Homo sapiens: one gene and its partner. The protein of the gene in region 2 purifies or fractionates together with the protein of the main gene of each other region. This does not show direct contact. Each region holds a gene or a part of one and is shown on either strand. Other genes may lie near its edges. The genes, in order: CFAP161 and CCDC150.

What was found.
Region 1: the proteins of CCDC150 (region 2) and CFAP161 purify together in Homo sapiens (affinity purification with mass spectrometry, with the first as the bait; one large-scale study listed by BioGRID). This does not show direct contact.

Annotation. Positions count from the first base shown.
Region 1 is NC_000015.10:81,132,676-81,136,599, reverse strand, and holds the start of CFAP161 (cilia- and flagella-associated protein 161), read right to left. Parts: upstream 2,331-3,924; 5' UTR 2,271-2,330; coding exon 2,202-2,270; intron 1,331-2,201; coding exon 1,241-1,330; intron 85-1,240; coding exon 1-84. UniProt on the Homo sapiens protein: Microtubule inner protein (MIP) part of the dynein-decorated doublet microtubules (DMTs) in cilia axoneme, which is required for motile cilia beating.
Region 2 is NC_000002.12:196,729,921-196,733,538, reverse strand, and holds the end of CCDC150 (coiled-coil domain-containing protein 150), read right to left. Parts: intron 3,583-3,618; coding exon 3,421-3,582; intron 2,681-3,420; coding exon 2,594-2,680; intron 1,507-2,593; coding exon 1,387-1,506; intron 1,094-1,386; coding exon 977-1,093; 3' UTR 738-976; downstream 1-737.

The DNA of each region.
Region 1 (3,924 bases), on a different chromosome or scaffold from region 2:
TTCTGTGTCAGGATCATCAGGATTCACAAGCATCACTTTGTCACCGTAATGAATATAGCCATCTTCAGTTACGGAAAGTTGCATCTACAATTTTGATAGTAGTTTATTACATAAACCATGCAATTCCTCAACAGTTACTGCCAAGGCAATTTTCTTCCTTCTCGGACTAGTACCCATTTCATTCAGGATTTCACTTGGATTCCCTCGAACCCTTAGTTCCTTCTTCCTTTCCCTTCCCCTTTGCCAAGGCAAAGCTCCCAATAATTCCAAATGAAGTCGAATAAAGCTGGTTAAAATCACATGGATTTACTCATTATCCTAGAAATTCAACATTCATTGAAAAATTTGTCGATTACCAACTAAGGGGCATTTTACTTATTTACATATTAACTCATTTATTTCTTTATTTGTAAAATGCAGGTAAACATGATTTAGGGCAGACTGTTTATGTTTCTAAAATCTTAGAAGAATTTAAAACATTGCAAATTGTTTTTAAAAACTGTTATTTTCCAAATGGTAACTCAGTTATGAAATTTTTTTCTTGCTTAACATATACTCACACCAAGTTCAACAGAATTTTGAAAACAATGTCTGAATTTAAAGTTACCGGTCTCAATAAACATACGTGTGCATGTGTCTTTATAGCAGCATGTTTTATAATCCTTTGGGTATATACCCAGTAATGGGATGTCTGGGTCAAATGGTATTTCTAGTTCTAGATCCCTGAGGAATTGCCACACTGACTTCCACAATGGTTGAACTAGTTTACAGTCCCACCAACTGCGGCACTATTCACAATAGCAAAGACTTGGAACCAACCTAAATGTCCAACAACGATAGACTGGATTAAGAAAATGTGGCACATATACACCATGGAATACTATGCAGCCATAAAAAATGATGAGTTCATGTCCTTTGTAGGGACATGGATGAAGCTGGAAACCATCATTCTGAGCAAACTATCGCAGGGACAGAAAACCAAACACCGCATATTCTCACTCATAGGTGGGAATTGAACAATGGAGAACACATGGACACAGGAAGGGGAACATCGCACACTGGGGCCTGTTGTGGGGTGGGGGGAGGGGAGAGGGATAGCATTAGGAGATATACCTAATGTTAAATGACGAGTTAATGGGTGCAGCACACCAACATAGCATATGTATACATATGTAACAAACCTGCACGTTGTGCACATGTACCCTAAAACTTAAAGTGTAATAAAAAAAAAAAAAGTTACCGGTCTCAAGAGATTCTGTTTTAGTCTTCTACTTCTCTGTATGAGAAGTTTCCCCTTGTCTCTCTTCTCTAAGAAGTCTTTCATGAGCTCCTAAACAGAAAATCAACAAAAGTAGCCCTGAATAATATAGATGTTAGTATTAATAACTTTTAGGTCAGAAGCTCTTCCAAGTTGAAAAAGCAAAATTTGAGTACAAAAAAAGAGATGTGAGCATAATTGGAATGATGGAACGTTTTTAGCACTACTTTAATATTTTTACTACATTATAGAATGTTTAGAAAAATGAGAAAGGCAAAACAAAGAAAAAGAAACATCACCAGTAATTACTCCAGCCAGATACCATCCTAAATGACATTTGGAGGCCATGTCTCCCCTGCTGGGGTTTCCCTTGACCGTATGATGACTGACACTAGAAAGTTCACCCCTCCCCAATCTGACCCGTATACGAATGGCTCAAAGCCTTGTTAAGACCACCCTTGGGAGAATACGAGGCAGTGAGTGAGTACAACGTCAATAAAAGGAATACTCAGGGTCATTTAAGAGGGCAAGCGTGGCAGGGTTGGAGTGGGGAGGGATATTATTTCTACCTAGAACCTGTGTCCTCACCTGGCCCGCAGCCTGAGACTGTAAGACTCTAAGGAATACGGGGGACTTAGTGGGGCTCTAGACTAAGCGGGAGACACAGGCCAGGGGCTTGAGAGTCAAGGCATCTGACTTTGGGAGGCCAAGGGACCCAGAGAAAGAAAAGTCAGGGTGCTCGGAGTAGAGGTCAGTGAGACCTGGGTTTGCAGTTCGGCAGGTGAGATTCCTTGGGAGTTTAGAGAAGTGGGGGATTTTAGAGGTATTCGCTGTATGCTGGGAGAGAGAGGAGGCTTGAGGCGCTCAAAGTAGGAGACTGAACTTAGAGCAGGGTCTGGGAGTTCCTGAGCTGCGGGTCTGCGCCTGGCCACACCCTGCGTACCTCCTCCAGGTAGACATCCTCATTCCAGTTGCCTATCCGGACTCCCGGACCATACACGTTCTGCGCCATCGCTCCCTGCTGTTCAGCAAGTGGGCCTCCCTCCGACACCATGCGTTAGCGTGGCGCGTCGCCATGACGACCCGGCCCCAGGCGATTGGTCAAGGTCTGGGACCCTGCTGGCCAATAAGCGACAGCGCGCACCCTCGCCCTGGGGCGGGAGATGGGGCGTCTGGGTCAGCGGCTGTCTGTGGCCCTCCAGCCCGCCCCACTTCCACCTCTTAGATTTCCTTAACTGCAGGGTGGGCGAGAGGGAAAACCCTGGCTGACAAAGTGCTTCCGAGAGAGAAATTTAAAGCTTTCTTTCTATTAGAATCTAACCGAAAAGTGCTATCGAGTACCCCTTGCTTGTCGAGGCAACAAAGAGGAGCTTTTAAATGGAAGCACGGCTTGCTTGCAGCCTATTTTTTGTAATCAGCAGCAGCAGCAGCAGCAGCAGCAGCAGCAATTTCGCCCTAATCATAAAACAATACCTGCTCAATGTACACATTTGGAAACCAAAATCGCATAGAAAGAAGAAAGGAAAATTAATAATTTCAGGGCCTTAAAAGTAAGAAATATACCATGTTAGTATATTTCTGTTTATAGGTTTCTGAGGTTGTCCATATTTTTGCGGACTTGACAGCATCCTCCCTCCCTCCCTCCCTTGCTCCCTCCTTCCCTGGGTCTCAAAGTTAAAGGACGAACCTGTGATTTGCAGGAACTCTTAAGAAAACCAGACTCTGCTGTAGCCAGCATTAATAAAACAAAATATTATTTTCTGGGGAGGGGAGGGATACCAGTTACTGTAGGACTACCGGAGGCTTGATGCAGATTGAATGCATTCAGTAATTTACCTCTATTTAGTGTCTAGTAAGACATGACTGAAATGGAAGACAGGAGCCTCCGCTCCCTTCAGCAAACCCAGTCTAAAAGAAAAGATAGTTCATGAAAACGAATTACTTAAGGAAGACTGTGGAAAAATGCAATTAAAGATGTGCTGATGGGCTGGCGTGGTGGCTCAAGCCTATAATCCAGCACTTTGGGAAGCCGAGGCAGGAGGATCACTTGAGCCCAGGAGTTCTAGACCAGCCTGGGCAACATAGTGAGACCCCATCTCCAATTTAAAAAAAAATACATATATATATATATATATATATATATATATATATATATATATATATATGCTGATGAAGGGCCATGGAGTTGAAGGATCCTTTCTGTCTTGAGGAACTGTGAGAATGGGAATTGGATGGCCTTTGAGTGATGGGAGAGGGGCTGCTTTGGAGCTGAACTGGGAAGGATTTGAACTGGCAGGCTGAAGTGTAGAATAAAAATAGGAACATTCCCACATTCTGATGAATCCACCAGCTCTGTCAATATATCACCACATTCGAGGATACTTCTGAAGGACACATAGGACAAAGCAGTTAGATCAGATAGTATACCACTAACTGCATTTGATAAATTCAGAAACTGAGACTCAAAGAAGCTAGCAGTCTAAATTCAAACTGCTAAAAGTTGCTCAAAGAAAGGACTCAGTCCAAACTTTCCGACTCCAAAGTCATGTTTGTTTGTTTTTCCTTTTAAGTATTTTTCATATTCCTCATAAAATCAAGAATAAAACAAAGCAGCTCTAGTCTCTACATTTTTAACAAGGTTCTAATGATTGGGTCATTCAGTAAGT
Region 2 (3,618 bases):
TGAATTTCATATTCCCAAAAAACCTACGAGATTAACAGTCTGCTCTGCTCAAGGAGGACTATGCCTGAACAACACTTCTCCCTTACTATATAGTAAGTGATAAATTCAGCTGTGTTTTTTTCTATCAGATATTGAGTAGTAGGCTCATCAACCTTTGACAGTCTTATAATTGATATTATTTCCAATTTCATGATTGCTTACTTGATTTAGGTCCTGATAATATCAGCAGCAGCTATGATTACTTGAGTATTAATTAAGTCAGGTCTTATGCCAGCCATTTACATATGTTAAATCTGGATTACCTAATCCACCACTCAACATCTGAAATAAAAAGATGAAGATGAGCTTATTGCTTAACTATAGTAAGGAAGAGCTATGTTGGTCAGGCATAGTCTCCCTGAGAAGAACAGACTGCTGCATTCTATAACTTTTTTAATGACCAAGGAAGCTGTAAATATAATCTCTGAAATGCCTTATTTGAGAATAGAGATATTAGTCTTTAAAAGATATGCTGGTAATTACCCAACATAGAAGTGCATAAATTTACAAGACAGTAGAGGAGTCTTTACCATTTTTCACACAATTCTATTACCAGGGATTATCTACTGCATGTTAGAGTGGCACATTTCATTGAAACAAAATATATCGTTTAGTAGCAATATCATTTAGAACTTGCTAAAAGCCTTTTCATAAAATATACTTATTAGAAAAACAGACAAGAATTATGCAACACCATCTCCTATCATACAACAAATTAACACAAATTTATTGGGTGGAAAATGTGAAAAGGGACAAAAAAAGGGGTAGTTTTGTACTGATATAAGAGTTCATAAAGTGATAAACTCAGGTCCAAAATCTTCAGCCCACATCAAAGACTTCATGTTCTTATGACTCTAGAAACAGGCCAGCCCCGGCTGCTGGGCTCTTGGAATCATGGAGTGTAGCTACACATAAAGAAGCTCCCTTGTCAAGGACATCACTTCCTCTGTACCTCAGAATGATACTTCTTGGGCATGGGCCTAAGATTCTGTTTTCTCTCCCATCGATGCAGAACAGATTGGTTGGACATGACATCATGTTTTACATCTTGGTCCTGTTGGAAAGAAAACACACCTAACACTGACTGTTCAGAGCTAACTGCAGCAATCTGCACCTGTTTTGCCTCTACACATGTCATCTATTCATGAAGACAAGTGATTCTAATCTAAAAAGTTTGTGACAGGTGGAACTTTGTAAAAAAAAGAAATTAATTGGTTTCCTAGCATTAGTCTAAAGAAACTAAAGATTAAAAGAGAGAGTATCGAGATGATGAGAGAACTTCGGTAATTAGAAATCTGAGAAGCAACAAGTAGAAAATTGCTTAAGACATCCATGTCTTAATCTTACCTTTTCCTGCCACCTGTCTTCCCCAGAAGGCCTCTGCAACCGGTTTTTTGTCAGCTCAAGTTGTAGACCATCAAACCTGTGCTTAAACCAGCGATGAGCTTCTTCCAGATTAGCTGTTATCTGAACATATAAATATCACCATTAAAAGACACAAAGAAAGAGTTACAAGTTTTTTTGTGTATTAGTTGCAGAGATTTTTTACTTAGAAATTAAAAGACCCAAATTCTGACTGCTTGTTCTTCACAACCTATTTGCATAATATACTTAACATCCTATACATGCGAGTAATTTCTGAGTGAGGGGTTAAAGAATGCATGCAGACTTGCTGCTTTTCATGCATTTGTTAATGTTTCTTGGATGTGAAGTAATGTAAGAGAGGACCCAGGAGAAAATTAAGAATGAAGGTAAAAGATGGCTTTGAAAATGAAAAAAATGCACAAAAGACTCTTAAGAATGTAGTAGTTCATGGGCCAGGTGTGGTGGTTCACACCTGGAATCACAGCACTTTGGGAGGCCAAGGCTGGTGGATCACTTGAGTCCAGGAGTTTGAGACCAGCCTGGCAACACAGTGGAACCTCATCTCTACCAAAAATTAGCTGGGCATGGTGCACCACCATGCCCAGCTACTTGGCTACTTGGGAGGCTCAAGTGGGAGGATCATTTGAGCCTGGGAGGCGGAGATTGCAGTGAGCCAAGATTATGCCATGCACTCCAGCCTGGTGACAGAGTGAGACCCTGTCTTGGAAAAAAAAAAAAAAAAAGTATGATTTGAAATACCCCCCAAAAGGCTAATTTAAGTTTAGAATAGAGAAAGAAAATTCACAATTAGTTAAATAGGGTCTACTTTACTTTTTTAGTTATTGATTGATTGAACAAAGAGCATCCACTTTCAGTAGGGTCATGTCAAATAATAATGCATTAAAATCCACACACATGCTGGTCTTTCCTTATATTTAATAGGGAGATTTGGACTTCAGGTTTAATATTTTAGCATTCTGTTATATATCATCTGTCATCTGGACACAGACTCTTAATCTAAAAATCACTTCTTCTCTACAATAGAGACTACACTTAGGAAGTTACTCGTTCTTCCCTGTTGCATTCCTGACAACTACGTTAATGAAGGATTTCACATTGACTTGGGTTGCTTCAGGGTTGCTGTGTTGAAGGAAACGTCTAAGTCTTTATGTCCGTGGGTCTGGCTCACCTGTTCTGATTCCACACTGGCTTCTTTCAGCGTATTCTCTGTTGCCTCTTTACATTTCTTCAGGTGTCTGACAGTTTCTTCCAATTCCTGAAAATGTGATACAAAGATTTTTATAAACTTCCAACATACCATAAGAAACCAAATGCTTCACTGTTATAATAAATGGGCAACTAAATATGAAAATAGGATGGAGTGCCTTCTAACTTCAGGTGCTACTGACATATGAGATAAAAACTGTTATTTTCAGCTTAACCTATAGTCTGCATATCTACATATGTGGATATGATTACACATTTTGATTTTTTATTTATGGAGTCTGTTGAGGACAGTGATTAATATCTCTTTTCAGAACTGGAGAGATACTTCTCATGACAAACCCTACTGAAAGACAAGAGCTCAGTGATCTCTTGAAGTCCCTTTTCAGTGATAAGACGTTATGCTTTTTATTCATTTAGGAATACCTAAGAGTCCTGTAATAGCAACAGGTGTATCTGTGCTAGAAGAAACGAGGTGTACAAAGTTCCTGAAAGGCTATGAAATTCAGTTCAGAAGTCTTACTTAGTAACTGATACTTTGCATATGTAAGCTCTAGCTGTTCTTTAAAAATTGACATTACTTTTATTAAACTGAAAATGGAGAACATTTGCCATATTCAAACTACAGCCTTCTTCCTAGATACTATTATTCTAAGGACTTAGCTAAGATAAACAATTTGTAAATGTGTGTTGTCTTCTGTAGACTCTAGAAAGTCTAGGTGCAAAACTACTGGGCTTTGGCACATGTCATTTGCTGACCATCTTTAAGATGAATCTTAGGAAACCTTTTACCTGGCACCGATTCTCTAGCTCCTGCCTTATTTTCCGCTCTGCTTCTAGGTGCAGCTCTTGCTGTTTATTCCGCACTGAGGCATCATATTGGCTCTTAGCCAACATCTGCATCTCTTTCTGCAGGTTAGTCATTTCACACACAAATCTCTGGATACTCAAAGACTGGAAGGATACAAAGACAGAGACATTTGGTGAACA